Regions from separate parts of the Homo sapiens genome. Here region 1 is linked to region 2. Evidence: fine-mapped expression QTL. Tissue or cell type: thyroid. Region 2 holds a variant in brackets; the other region holds the start of a gene. All regions are shown on one strand. Distances are between the middles of the regions.

Region 1 (8,192 bases), 140 kb after region 2:
GAAAAGCAACGTCCAAATAAGGGGAATTTTAAAGTGACTTGCCTAAGGCCACACAACTAAAAGGTGGCAGATCCTACGTTTAGACATATCTACTTGATTGCAAATCTGTTCTTTTTCCCCTATTGTCTATTGAGTAGAAATTGGTTATCCTAGTGAAATATACACAAATAATGTTTATCTATATCAAATACTGTATTATGTTACTAATATACATACTATATCTATTTAAAAGAAAAAATTTAGCAGGAGATAATATAGCATATAGGATCTAAAATAATGTTGTTGTTTGAAGCTTTATTAGGATCTTTAATATAATCAGACCAAATTGATCACTTTACACTATAAAAGAAGAAAAATAATTTGGATCTCACAGACTGATGTTTACAGAAAGTCTAAGAAATATTGCATTTTATATTTGGTACTATATGGAGATTGATATTCTTATATTTTCTTCTGCTTCAACTCATAGTCATCTAACCAAATTTCTGTTTCCTTCTCTTGTACTAGCTTGTCACTATGAATTGTTTTTTAAAAATTAATTAATTAATCAATTAATAGAGAAAGGATCTCGCTCTTTTGTCCAGGCTGGTCTTGAACTCCTAGCCTCAAGGGATCCTTCCACCTTGACTATGAATTCTTAAAAATACAGCATATATAGCTGAAGTGCTAGTTGCCACATTATTATTTTTTAAACTGGGTTGCACCCGTGTAAATATAGGGAAAAAGAAAGAGTAACAATGTTAGAAGCTCAGAGGCGAGAGAAAGAGAAAGTGGCATCAAACAAAACAGATTTTGATTTTCTATCCATAAAAATTAAGTCCTATATTTATACAATGGTTCAGTAGCTTTTAACAATCTTTAATTTTCACATTCCTCAAGAACTACAACATCTTGAACTTTCTCTTTGGTTGCATGGTTTGGAACAAATCCTGAAACAACTCCCTCTAATGTTTTTATGACTGGAAAGATCTTTGTCCTTTTTTGGGCGTGTTGTTTTGTTTTATTTTTGAGATAGGATCTCACTCTATCACCCAGGCTAGAGTATAGTGGCTCAATTGCGGCTCACTGCAGCCTCTACCTCCCAGGCTCAAGTGATCCTTCTCCCTCAGCCTCCCGAGTAGCTGGGACTACAGTTGCATGCCACTGTGCTTGGCTGATTTTTTAAAATTTTTTGTAAAGATGAGGTCTTGCTGTGTTGCTCAGGCTGATCTCTAACTCCTGGGCTCAAGCAATCTTCCCACCTCCGCCTCCCAAAGTGCTGGGATTATAGGCATGAGCTAGTGCACCCAGCCTCTTTTTTAAAAAAATTAGAAATAAAGTAATCAAAAGCCTTTTTCTAAAGCATCATAGTTTAAAAATTTTTAAGAAATAGACTATTTCAAATTGCTATTGGAGCACAGTGTACACAGGCCTCTGGGAAGGTGAATTTTCCTGTGAAGTGCCTTTGAGAAGGTGCATTTTACTGCCACTGATTTTGGAAAGCAGGATATTTGAGTCTGACCTCTATAAAGGTTGTTTTTTTCCTGGATTTTTATCCATGTAATATCATTCCCTGAACATGCACCACACTTTTATATTTGAATAAAAGGTACTTTAAGGAGCCCTTTAAAATATATTAATATGTCCTTTTTATTAATCTTAATGAATTTACAAGCAAAAAACAAAATATCCTTTTTTTAATATCTGTATACATTATTGATATTAAAGGCAAAACATGGAAATAGAATCAGGTTTCCTTTCAGTGTTATACATCATGGCAATGCGTATTATGTAAACGATGTTTAAAGTGAGCTATAAAGGTTATACTGTGTTTGTCTTGGTTTATGGATCCTATGCCTGTATTTCTTTTGAACATTTAGAGAATATTTATGTGAAAGATCCTTTACATTATTAGGTTATTTCTAGTTTCTTAGGAGTAAATTCCTATGTTTGCTGTGGCCACGGACTGGTGACCACTCTGTTAAATGTGGGCAAGTGTATTTAGTGAAATTCGTCAGTAGCCTAGCTTCATTGGGGAGTTATACAAGAATGCTCTGAGTGTCCTGATCAATTATGGATACATTGAGGCTATTTTTTTGATTGTCACTACCAACGCCCCATGGAGTTTGCCCCTTGTAGCCCAGGTAGTATTATGTAGGCCTAATTTTTCTCTAGTGATTTTTATAGCCTAAGTGGATATCTCACTTCCTGCTATAATCCTGGGCAAGTCAACAGAGTTATTCCTGTCTTTGTATACAGATTATGTTGTATTATTCCTAGTTAACTGTTTCATCTAGGAAACTCAGTTTTAGTTCCCTATAATGCAACAAACTCTAAACCTCAGCTTTAAGGTAAAGTATTTGCCCAGTGTAATTAGCTTTAATTACTACTCTTCACTTTGGCTTTAAGTATGTTTCCTCATCATTTCTGGCACCTGAAAACTTCTCTTTTTTTTTTTTTTTTGAGACGGAGTCTCTCTCTGTCGCCCAGGCTGGAGTGCAGTGGCACCATCTCGGCTCACTGCAAGCTCCGCCTTCCGGGTTCACGCCATTCTCCTGCCTCAGCCTCCAGAGTAGCTGGGACTACAGGCGCCCGCCACCACACCCGACTAACTTTTTATATTTTTAGTAGAGATGGGGTTTCACCGTGTGAGCCAGGAGAAAACTTCGCTTTTTTACTCTAAAATTTAGTGATGTTGTTTTAAAATTTGTCTTTTTTAAACTTACGATTACATCAAATTCTGTATGTTTAGAGAAAGAGGGAGTAACTTCTGTATCTGTGCATTTTGACTGAAAGTCACAGTTGCTTATCTTTATAGAATTAACATAATTGAGAATGTTTCCCTAAATCCTTGTTCATCTGTGTAGAAATTGACTTGATAGGTACTCAAATATGTTTATATGCTGTATATAAATTACATTTTCTAGTAGTTGCATACTCATAACTATATGTATAACTATCCAATTTATTGATCTTATATCTTCATGAATTAGAATGTTAGGCAAAATGAGACAAATAAGCATGTTAGAATTTAAAACATGCAAGGACAGGATTCATATAAGCATAAAATATGAAGCTCATAGTTGTGAAATCATTTAATTGCTTAGACTAGGTGAAATTGATGAAATTACTATTTTATGCAGTCTGTTATGTACCTTAAATTTATTATGTTGGAAGAGTTATATACAAATATGAATCATCTTTTATTATGTTTAACTTGCAGCATTGCTATACAGTTTTGAATTTTACTAGCAAGAACTGTATCTGTGAGCTTAAACATGATATTTAAAAAAGAAAGAACACTAACTCGTATGTATGATAATCAACTTGGACAACTTGTTCTGGGAAATAGAAAAGTAAACTGGTGCGACTCAAATAAAAGGTTCTCTGCCCTATTACAGACACTGAAAATCCCTAGAAACAGAAACATGAGTAAAAATTACCTTGTACTTTTAGAAATATGCCCTGGGATAGATACTTAGTGTATTTATAGATTTTTTTAAAGTAGGCCATTTCTTTTCATAGTTACTGTAATGATTAAATAAAACATTTCAAGAAATATGACCAGTTTTTACCCAAGAGAAAACAGAATATTCTGTTGCTTTTGTATATGAAGTCAACTTGCCACATTTTTCTAGTGCAAGTGAAAGCAGAGGATCTTATTGTAATATATTAACCTCTTTGGCTACTAAAGTGAGGGCCAAATAGTAGTTTCTAAAAACTAAAAAAAAATTGCAAATTGCATATATTGTCTAATTTTGAAGTATCTGACTTTTTTTGCAATGTAAACTTTCAATGCTTTTTTCTACATTTTATTTAGTCTAAATAACTTATTGAATTAACTTGTATAACAACATTAAGATCATTTTTGTTTAAATATGATGTATAATTTTTGAACTTTTATCTGATTCAAGTAAGCTGTACATACATAAAATGATTTTTATATTACATTTAAAACTGCATAGCTGTGAAGATAATGTGTTCGAGGTATTACGTGGCCAATTCTCAAGTCCACCTTTAAAATACATATAAAAGTCATTATTATTTTGATTTGAAATGGAATATTTATTAAATTCTAACATAGTAACAATTATAACTTTGAAAGTATCTAACCTATCTACATATGTTGTATTTAAATGATGCTGATTTAAATTTTTCAAACTATCAATTAAATGCTAACACTTACGTTAAATGGTATAACAAGTATTTTTAATGTACTAGTTGAAATATTATAAAGGTTAGTGAGTACTTCGATATTTTCTGGTAGCCCTTTCACAAGATTATTTTCTCATTTTTTCAATTTTAGAAGATTCTAGTAAACAACAATGAAGCAATTAAGACCATTATAGCAAATTATTTCAGATTTTTAAGGTTATACGTATGTGTCAAATTTGGGTATAAGCTGCTTTTCAGAGTGAAATATAAAAATGTTCTCTAAAGTAAGCACATTCATAGTCTGTCTATAAAAGAAATAATTTTAGATCTGTTTTTACATCTGACTTTCTAGTATTTTTTAAATGAGAGCTTACTTTTTAAAAGACTTAAAAATTTTTTCTTTCCTCTAAAGTTGATTTTTATTATCGTAGTCTATTTTCAAGAGCTTTATACCCAGATCCCAGTCAGCATGTCAGTAATATATGTGAACAAATCAGCTACTGGTACCCCGGTCCAAATCTGAGCAAAACAAGTAACCCTCATTATTTGTTGAGTGATTTTTAAATGTAACAGTGTAACCAGATGTCAGTCTATGGATACCTCATATTAAAAAGTACAGAAAAGAGTCATTATTTACCTTTCTGTTTTCTTCCTTTTGTTGGTTTTCCACCTGCGGTGTTGGAGTCCTGCCTTTGAGAGAATATCTGAATATCATCTCATGTTTTGAACAAATTATCTAAATCTCTGTCTTATAGGGCACAGACTAATTTCTGTATAGTTTTCATGTTGTTAATTTGAAAGCCAAATAATGAAGTCAAATAAGAGATAAAGTTGTACGTTTGCTGTTAATAGCAAGTGAAAATAGATTGCTTACTTCACACCTGGAGAATCTGGTTCTGCCTGTTAGACGCCTATTCTTTAGATTAAAGGAAGATCATTTTCATTGGAGCTAGTCGGTAACAGGAAGTCCTCGTTAAACTGCCTACGTAGAGTATTTGGCACTGGATCTGCAAATTTAGTCCTACATTGTATATGTAATATATTATTCCAAGAAAATGGGTTTGTATTTAAACAAAGGTTACTTTCTTTTCTATAGATATCAAAACTTACTAAAAATATGGAATTAAATAGGAATGAAAAGAAGCTTGGTGTAAAAGCTTTTTTTGTTCCATTTACTTTAAAATGGTTGAAATCTGTCCTATTTTAGGAAATCCCAAAAGAGCTTAGCTCACAAAATCATAGAATTTCAGAAGGAGAACATCCAGGAAAGAGCTCATGTCTGTAAACCATTCATCCCACGTTACTTTTAATTTTTTTTACTTTTTATTATGCCTGCTGTTTTTATTTTAAAATAAATTTTATATAGAACTAAAGTTATCCAGCAATATATGTTAAATCATTTATTTTGTCAATATAACAACTCAAAATTAATTTATACCAGAGGGAAATGTTTATAGGAAGAATTAAAAATGAAAATTTCTCTTGTACTACCAAATTTCAGACCCATTTTTTCTACCTGACTTGTTACTATTTGAGGGCAAGAAGAAGGAAATTGCTGTATCTATCAAAATCATATATATATATATATATATATATATATATATATTTATTTTTTTTTTATTTTTTTTTTTTTTTGAGAAGGAGTCTTGCTCTTGTAGCCCAGGCTGGAGTGCAGTGGCACGATCTTGGCTCACTGCAACCTCCGTCTCCCGGGTTCAAGCAATTCTGCTGCCTGAGCCCCATAAGTAGCTGGGATTACAGTTGCCTGCCACCACGCCCAGCTAATTTTTTTGTAGAAATGGGGTTTCACCATGTTTGCCAGGCTGGTCTCGAACTCCTGACCTCAGGTGATCCACCTGCCTCAGCCTCCCAAAGTTCTGGGATTACAGATGTGAACCACCATGCCCGGCCAATCACATTTATATTTATTCTTTGTTTTAACAGTTCTACTTCCTGGAATCTGTACTCAAAATAAGAAATGACTCCTTTACACACCTACTTTTTATAGCACTCTTTGTAAAAACAAAACACTGGAAACACAAAAGTCCTTCAGCGTAGAACTGGCTGAATAAATGATGGAACATTCAAAGGGGAGCATTTTGCAATTATAGAAAATAGTGAAGATTTTATTATACTGCTTCAGGGTACTTCAAAATTTACTGTTCAGTTAAAACAAGCATGCTGCAGAAGAATATATATAATATGCTAAGTTTTAGGAAGAAAGGAAGGGTAGATATAAATATTGTATATATACACAAATACATAAACCAGTCAATAGCATTGAATATTCACAGTGCCCAAATTATGGTCCTTGAAATACCATTTTCTCCATACGCTTGTTTATATTTTCAAAAAGAAATAATGGGAGGATGAACTAAACACGAATGAAAATGGTTACCTATAAGGGAAGGGAAGGAAAAGGCAGAGAGATAGCAAATAGTTCCTTTCTGATTGTACCTTGTTTTTATAGTTCTGAATTTAGAACCATATAAATATTTTTTTATTTTTATTTTTTGAGACAGGGTCTCACTCTGTCACCCAGCCTGGAGTGCAGTGGCGCGATCTCGGCTCACTGCAACCTCTGCCTCCTGGGTTCAAGCGATTCTCATGCCTCAGCCTCCCGAGTAGCTGGTATTACAGGTGCACGCCACCACGCCTGGCTCATTTTTTTTTTTTTTTTTTTTTAGTAAAGACAGGGTTTCACCATGTTGGCAAAGCTGGTCTTGAACCCCTGACAAATGATCCACCCACATTGGCCTCCCAGAGTGCTGAGATTACAGGTGTGAGCCACCACGTCCAGCCGATATAAATATTTTAGAAATTAAATCTTAAAACAAATACACAAACGATCTCTAAAATGCAAAAGCACCTAGAAAGAAATGAACCTAGGTATATATCTAGGTGATGGCAAAACCACACAGAGAAGTACTATTTTAAGTAATTTTAAAACAGTATTATTGACTCTGCATCTCTAGTGGGATATAGCGTAGAGACAAAGATACGTAACCACAAAGATATGTTAACCTGCACTTAGTAGTCTTAATATTTAGTAATCATATTGATATTATTATGTTAAAATTCCTATATATAGTTGGATAAAACAAATAATGTCATTAGAAACTGTAGTTTTCAGCATAAGTAAAAAGAGATACAAATAAGATCTAAGGCTGGGCACAGTGGCTCATGCCTGTAATCCAGTACTTTAGGAGGCTGAGGCAGGAGGATTGAGCCTAGGAGTTTGAGACCAGCCTGGGGAACATAGTGAAACCCCATCTCTGCTAAAATAATTTTTTAAAAAAAGAACGTTCGAACACTAGCTGGGCATAGTGGTATGCGCCTGTAGTCCCAGCTACTTGAGAGGCTGAGGTGGGAGGATGGCTCAAGCCTGGGAGGTAGAGGCTGTAGTGAGCTGTTGTCACACCTCTGCACTTAAGCCTGGGCAACAGAGTGAGACCCTGTCTCAAAGAAATAAACAAAAACAAGATTTAAGAAGCTAAGTAAAACTTGGTAGTTGATTTGAAATGAAAAAATCAACACGAATACATGGTTAGATTTTTTTTTTTTCTAGAATAAAACTATTTCCTAGCTTTGTGCACTGAAAGGGCCTAGAAGCAGTAGTAAGTCAATAGCAAATGTTTATCTATAACTCCTAGGTTTTAGTCTTTAAAATGCCATTTTCCACTGAAAAGATCAAGGCTTCTTGGGGAAATGGATGATTGCAAGTCTGGAACCTTGTTTCATAGTAGAACATAAAGAAGCTATCAAAGACTGTTGGAGTTGTACCAAAAGGGTCCAAGAGCCAACCTGAAGGGGACTCCTGCTGCCTCAAAATGGGTACCTTTGAGCCTTAAAAAGAGCAATAACTGCAACAAATTGAAACACATCAAATACATTTTTAAATCCATAAGTTCATAATGATGCCTCTCAAAATAAGAAAAAGTACCAAAAAGCCTGAATAGCCAAAGCAGTCCTAAGCAAAAAGAACAAAGCTGGAGGCATCATATTATCTGACCTTAAATTATACTACAAGGTTATTGTAACCAAAGTAGCATGGTACT
Region 2 (8,192 bases):
TAAGGGTAAACAACAATAAAAATTCCTTCTACAAAGGCAATTTGAAGAACCACTGCTGCAATCACTTCAAGTAAAACTATAGCACTCAAAGAGCAAACTCTTCACTCACTAACCAATAATATAAGCCAAACAATAAGCATATTAAAACACCATGATAGGAAGGGAAAAACTATCCTCCAACATAAAATAAATTTAGTTACACAAATTTAAAGTTGGTCAACACTCCTTCTTTAATATAGCCAATTAGCAGCATGTGAACAACTATTCTCTCCTTTACAGACTTTCTTAACTTAGCCTACAACACTTGACCCTGATTGCTTCTCTTTCTACACTCTAACCACTACTTCTCAGTCTCCTTTGCTGGATCCTCCCCTCCCCACAGCTCAGGCCCCAGACCTTTTTCCTGTAGCCATGCAAGTATTTTAAGTGAGACACTATGACTCCACTCCAGGGCATTTGGAAAATTTGGAGGTGAGGAACACTTTTATTTGTCACAATGAGTAGGGGCCATGCTGGCACTGCAAGATGATAGACAATCTGCATTATGTACATAGGCTAGTCATGCAGAATTAATAATAATAAGTAATGCAGAACTAATAATAAAATATCAAGTATTCTTAAAATCTTTTGAACATCACTGCTAGGTATTCATGTAGGGAATATTCATGCTTACAATCATCTGAGTTTGTGCATACATAGACACAAAATATTTGCTGCACTATTTTAGCATTCATTACATTTTTCAAGAATGTAATAATCTTGACAACTAAGGATAGATTGATATTTGTTTTGTTCATATCTTTACCAGGAACTTCCCACCACTTTGGAAAATTAATATTACCAATGGCAACACCATGTATGCCCTTAATGGTACTTGAGTTGCTAATTTAACACCCCAGCATTAGTCTTCATTTGTAGCTTTTACTTTATGCATAGAAGCAAGCTTTGACAAGTGTTATAGTTATAGTTGACTACGTATATATTGAAATACATATTATTTTCTTATAAATTACTTTCCTTTTATTTATCCATATTAATATAATAATGACAGAATTATTTTGGTTTTGATTGGGTATATGTGAAGGTAGTTTATATTACTGATACATTTCATTATAGAATAGTAAAGGAGCATTATATATTTTCAGACATTGGATGAGATAGTGTTTGGAACCACTGGTCAACACAAACAGTTTCATGGCCTTAAAACCCCTCTTTATGCTGAGTATTCAAAAATTTTAATTGAAGGCTTAACTTCAAAAATATATCCAGAATCTGACCACTTCTTACCACTCTTACCATCAGCACACCAGTCAAACTGTCATCTTCTCTCCGCTGGGTTATTCCAACAGTCTCCTAACTCCATATCCCCATATCCTGTTATACACTCATTCTCCACTTCTGGTTTCCACAAAGCCATTAGCTTCTGATTGGGATTATCTTTTAAAATGCAAACTAGATCATGTCCCTTCTCAAAACCATCCAGGGCCTTTCAATTTAGCATAAAATCCACATCCTCATCATGGCCTCCAAGGCCCTAGATGATCTTATTCTAGACCACGTTTCTAACCTCATTTTCTAACTACTCTCCCCTGCTGCTACACTACTCTGTGTTATTCCTCAAATACCAAACACATCCTATTCCAAGAAATTCTGTACTTGCTGTTTACATGGTACAGAATCTTTTTATATTCCCTCATTTATTTCTCATGACATGTGCTCTCAAGTCTCAGCTCAGATCTAATCTCATCAGAGATGCCTTTCCTGATTCTATATGCATACTAACCACCATTACTCTCTATGTCTTTGTCTGGCTTTTCTTTTTCCTTATAACATGAATAACTATCTGGCATATTTATTTTTTCATGCATTTGTTGTTTGCGTCTCACCATTAGAACGCAAGCTCCATAAGAGCACTGACTTTTTTTTATTTGCTGTTGTATCTTTACCACCTAGAATAAGGATTAGCACATAGAAGTGCCAATAAATATTTTGCTGAATGAATTATGATACATTTACAATTAAAATTCCTATTAATATTAGACTCATAATCAAAGATAAGATGTAATCATTTATAAATTCACCACGTTTGCCCAAGTGTGCTTTGTTTGTACCTCTAATGTAATGTATTTCATGTTACATTATATTATTTCCCAAAGAAGCATCAGCTACTTATCTGTGAGGTACTAAGCTCTAGAGCAAGGAAAATCTCTTGCTATTGTTGCGGGAAGTCAGGGACCCCGAATGGAGGGACTGGATGGAGCCACAGCAGAGGAACATAAATTGTGAAGATTTCATGGACATTTATTAGTTTTCAAATAATACTCATAATTTCTTACACCTGTCTTACTTTAATCTCTTAATCCTGTTATCTTCATAAGCTGAGGATCTACATCACCTCAGGATCACAACTGTGTTAACTGTACAAATTGATTGTAAAACATGTGTGTTTAACAATATGAAATCAGTGCACCTTGAAAAAGAACAGAATAACAGCGATTTTAGGGAACAAGGGAAGACAACCATAAGGTCTGACTGCGTGCAGGGTCGGGCAAAATAGAGCCATATTTTTCTTCTTGCAGAGAGCCTACAAACGGACCTGCAAGTAGGGAAGATATTGCTAAATTCTTTTCCTAGCAAAGAATATTAATAATTAATACCCTGGGGAAGGAATGCATTCCTGGGAGGAGGTCTATAAATGGCCGCTCTGGCAGTGTCTGTCTTATGCAGTTGGGATAAGGACTGAAATACGCCCGGGTCTCCTGCAGTACCCTCAGGCTTATTAGGGTGGGGAAAAAACCCCACCCTGGTAAATTTGAGGTCAGACCAGTTCTCTGCTCTCAAAACCTGTTTTCTGTTGTTTAAGATGTTTATCAAGACAATACGTGCACCGCTGAACATAGACCCTTATCAATAATTCTGCTTTTGCCCTTTGGCTTGTGGTCTTTGTTGGACTCTTTATCAGTAGTTTCTGATTTTGCCCTTGTCCTGTTTCCTCAGAAGCATGTGATCTTTGGTCTCCTTTTTGCACTTTGAAGCATGTGATCTTTGTGACCTACTCCCTGTTCTTACACCCTCTCCCCTTTTGAAATCCTTAATAAAAACTTGCTGGTTTTGTGGCTCAGGTGGGCATCACAGTCCTATCGATATGTGATGTCACCCCTGGAGGCCCAGCTGTAAAATTTCTCTCTTTGTACTCTTTCTCTTTATTTCTCAGCCAGC[C/T]GACACTTATGGAAAATAGAAAGACCCTACAATGAAATATTGGGGGCAGGTTTCCCCGATATGCTATAGTTCTAATGCCTTGAACTCAGGAACTTAGCATCAAAAGCACTCACTAAAAGCTTACTGAATAAATGAGTGCATGTCTGCATAAATGAAGGACCAAAATAATTTAGTGATGACCTCACATGACTTCTCAATACAAACTTCTTGTCTGGGTGCAGTGGCTCACACCTGTAATCCCTGCACTTTGGGAGGCTGAGGAGAATTGATCACCTGAGGTCTGAAGTTCAGGACCAGCCTGGCCAACATGGTGAAACCTGTCTCTACTAAAAATACAAAAACTACCTGGGCATGGTGTCAGGCACTGATAGTCCCAGCTACTCGAGAGGCTGAGACAAGAGAATCACCTGAACCCAGGAGGTAGAAGTTGCAGTGAGCAGAGATCACTGCACTCCAGCCTGGGTGACAGAGCAAGACTCCGTCTCAAAATAATAGTAATAATAGTGATGATAAATAAATAAATAACATAAATAAATAAATTGAGATCAGCACAAACTTCTTGCCAGCTCCTCTAGGCATAAAAGATGTCTCTTTTGTGCACCACATTCTAAGGTGAAGCCAATCTTCTCTCAGCTATCCTCTGCTGATGGCAGCAATGACTCTATACTTCAGAAAAGACTTCTCCCCACTATCAACTAGCAGTAATCCCTTCAGAAAAGTCCCACTTTAATCCAGTTGATTAAAGTGCTATTCTTGATCATTAGATTAAAGGCTATATGTAGGATTAAATTAAAATGCTAATTTCTTTTCTTTCTTTCTTTCTTTTTATTTTTGAGACAGTCTTGCTTTGTCACCCAGGCTGGAGTGCAGTGGCGTGATCTCGGCTCACTGCAACCTCCGCCTCCTGGGTTTAAATGATTCTCCTGCTGGGATTGCAGGCGTGCGCCACCAAGCCTGACTAATTTTTGTATTTTTAATAGAGATGGGGTTTCGCCATGTTGGTCAGGCTGCTCTCGAACTCCTGATCTCAGGTGATCCACCTGCCTTGGCCTCCTAAAGAGCTGGGATTACAGGCATGAGCCACTGCGCCCAGCCTAAAATGCTGATTTCTAAGCACACTGGTACCTGCTAATGTATATCATTTGCACAAAAACTGACAACTAGGTCCGGTACAATGGCTCATGCCTGTAATCCCAGCACTTTGGGAAGCCAAAGTGGGAGGAGGATTCCTTGAGTTCAAGACCAGCCTGGGCAACATAGCAAGACCCTGTGTCTATTTTTTTTTAAGGATTACTTATCTATCTGCTTATATTTGAATTTGAATTACCTTTTTAGACTTGTTACTATGTTTATTTCTCCTTACTTTAAAAAATATTGTTGGCAATTGAGGAGTTTTCCTTGATCAGTGTTGTCTTTGCATAAATTGTTATGCCAGCCGGGTGTGGTTGCTCACTCTTGTAATCCCAGCACTTTGGGAGGCCGAAGTGGGTGAATAGCTTGAGCCCAGGAGTTTGAGACCAGCCTTGCCAACATGGTGAAAACCTGTCTCTACTAAAATTACAAAAATTAGCCAGGTATGCTGTTGCACACCTGTAATCCCAGCTACTCAGGAGGGTGAGGCACAAGAATCTCTTGAACCTAGTAGGTGGAGGTTGCAGTGAGGCAAGACCATGCCACGGCACTCCAGCCTGGGCAGACAGAGTGAGACTGTCTCAAAAAAAAAAAATATGCTAGCCGCGGTGGCTCACATCTGTAATCCCAGGACTTTGGGAGGCCAAGGCAAGTGGATCACCTGAGGTCTGGAGTTCGAGACCAGCTGGACCAACACGGAGAAACCCCGTCTCTACTAAAAACACAAAATTAGCCGGGCATGGTGGCGCATGCCTGTAATCCCAGCTACTCGAGAGGCCAAAACAGGAGAATCACTTGAACCTGGGAGGTGGAGGTTGCAGTGAGCTGAGATCACGCCACTGCACTCCAGCCTGGGCAACAAGAGCAAAACTCTGTCTCAAAAAAAAAAAAAAATGTTAGGCCTCCTAATAGTCCCTAACACCACTGTTCACCAAACAGCAACTAAAAAAGGTAAAAAGTTAAAGACAGAGTAGTTCAAGCAAATAACTAAAAACAATGATTCTAATATATTAAGTGAGAATATTATTTCTCAGGATGCTTCAGGGATTTACAGTATGTAGAATATACCTCATATAGCATCAGATAACTCCAAATCCATTTTGGTTTGGTATCACTATAAAAATAAATTATGATTTTATACAGACTGCATCAAAGTGGGAAGATATTGATGAAATCTGCAAACGTACCATATTCCATAGACCATTATTAATAACATCACCTCCAGTTGTGATTTTGGATGTATGTTCATTCTTAAGCTGAACTTCAATCTTTCCACCACGAAGTGCAATCAGGAGCCACGCTGAGTGATCGATAGATTCTGCGTACAGTATCACGCCTTCTGAATCATATGTCCGGAAATCAAATTCTGCTGAAAATCTAAACAATGGACAAAGAGAGATCCTTAAGAGTAAGAAATACAGAAAGCTCAATGCATTATTCTTTTTTTCTTGTACTGACAAACAGTAACACAGACAAAGAGTCAATTATTTATTTCTTTTTCTGGAATTAATAAAAGAGAAGGGCAGAATTAGACTGCTCATGTATTATCTCTGGTTCCATGTACGTTTAAAATTAAGTTATTATATTTTCTTGCTTATTCTTGGAATCTTTTCCCCAGGGAACAGATGCTTTGGTAATTTGTCATCTTTCTTTGACATATATTTTGATAGCACCTTCCAAATGCTGAAATTAATACACAGGTATAAGTATCAGGCATACTATATCTCTCCTGGAGCCTTTTATACACTATATAATCTGACATTAAGAAGTGGTAGTTTTTTTTGTTGTTGTTCTTTTTTGTTTGTTTTTGTTTTTGCTGTATCCATAAGTGATCATAAAATGTGTTACAATTTCATCGTTGGTTTATTCATCAAAAGGCATATTTTCCCTATAATTTCACATGTCAGGAATCACTCGTGGAGATCTACAAGATGGCACATGGATGACTGCAGACATCATTAAGCCTTCATGTGTGGTAAGAAAGGTAAAATTTAAAAACTTAAAATATATCTATTAGCTTTCCTAAAACTCCAGTTGCATAAGTCACTGTTGTAGAATACACAGAAGGAAAACTTAAAAGACATAGTCTACCCATGTGTTTGGGGGGTATCTGAGTGCTGGCAACATCTGTTGCTATTAAGACTCTAGACATATATGTAGCTATTACAGGGGAGAAAAGTCTTAGGATGCAGGACTTAAAATAACATGTGTTGATTCAGTATCCTTAAAACACTTCAATGAGAATCAGCATTGAAGTTTCCAAGGGACTAGCAAATCCACATGATTGACGAAAGACAAACAGGGAAAAGGAACAATAGGTGTATAACTATTAGTCACCTAACTTAAAATAAAGGCAATTTAAGTTAAAGAGTCTGGACTTCAGATAATTGCTATATTAGGCAGGACAGAATCCCACACTCTTACCGCAATATAGTAAAATAGTAATAGTAATAGAGGCACCATTTGCAATGGGGCACGTATCTCCCTCAAATGGAACAAAGAAAAGGTGACAAAATGAATGTTTTCATCTTTAGAATTCCAAAGAAATATTTAAAAAGAGGTAAAATGTGGAGTAAAGTATGTTGGATGGATAACAATGTAGTAGGAATTTACTGAACTCAGATTATGAAAAAAAGAACAATTTTGCTTGGAATAAGGACTTCTATGCTCTTTCATAATTATCTGAGCATTTTGCTGATGTGAAGCAATATTATCTTGCCAAAATCCAAATCTGTGTATGCTCAGGATCTTCCAGCAGTTGATTCTATTATGGAGATAATTTCCTTTTCTTTGTAAAATCAGGCTGAAATCATAGTTTCAAAGGGTCATGTTCTGCATATTTTGTTTCTGGAATATATCAGCAGCATATTGATTCATTACAATGGGGAACAATTCATTCTTTTTCACAAGCATGGTAAACAGGAAAATAGAATGAATTTGTTGACATTTACGGAGGGAAAGTATTTGATCATGAGCAACAGACGTCAAGAAATTTGCAAAAATAAATAAAAGCACTAGCTATTCTTTGTGTTGATCACACAAGGGGCAGTTTATAAAAATTCATCAAGCTATACATTTAATCTAATGTGTACATATCGGTACATACTTTATATTTCAATGAAAAGTTTAAAATAAATAAATAATAAATTCTGGAAAAAATAATTTGTCCAATTCTGATCCCATGTTAGAGATCAAACTACTATGAATCGTCAGTGAGAAATGAACAAACTCCTGGAGATTGGCTCCAGGACCTCTGGATGGTATCAATATCCACAGATGCTCAAGTCCCTTATATAGAATGGCATAGTATTTGCATATAACCTATGCACATCCTCTCACGTACTTTAAGTCGTCTCTACATTATGTATAATACTCAATACAATGCAAATGTATGTAAATAGTTGTCATACTGTATTGTGTCTCATTTGTATTATTTTGTATTGTATTGTCATTGTGTTTTTTTCTGAATATTATCTACCCGAGGTTGGTTAAATCCACAGATGAGGAACTCAAGGATTTGGAGGATCAATTGTATTCCTAAAAGTGTTATTTACTAGAACTAATATTTTTCTCTCATTATTATTCTCATAGCAGGGAAGAGTTTTCTCCAATCTCTATCATTAGAAGATATTAGTTGCTCTGTGATGTTAAAGGAAAAAACCACATATTGGCAGAAATAAAGTGTGGAAGGAGCACTGTTACTTAAGTATTTATGTAAGTTATTGATCTTAGAATAATTTTCAATGTTTTTAATAACGTCTATGAATTTAGTTGAATTATTTAATGAATAATCATTCATGTATCTAACATCAAGTTCTAAACATACATGCTTATTTAATTAA

What was found. PIP is the estimated chance that this variant, and not a neighbour inherited with it, causes the effect.
Region 1: it holds the start of STX19, and the variant in region 2 is fine-mapped to the expression of STX19 in thyroid (GTEx, PIP 0.98).

What each region holds. Positions count from the first base shown.
Region 1 is chr3:94,023,596-94,031,787 of GRCh38, forward strand. STX19 (syntaxin 19) reads right to left here and starts at 5,002. Exons shown (of 2, transcript NM_001001850.3): 1 at 4,772-5,002. The region is part of intron 3 of ARL13B (ARF like GTPase 13B); the gene reads left to right.
Region 2 is chr3:93,887,396-93,895,587 of GRCh38, forward strand. PROS1 (protein S) reads right to left here. Exons shown (of 15, transcript NM_000313.4): 10 at 5,538-5,727. Among named protein-coding and RNA genes, the nearest start is that of PROS1, 82 kb to the right of the region's middle. The variant C/T (reference allele first, on the strand shown) is at 3,220.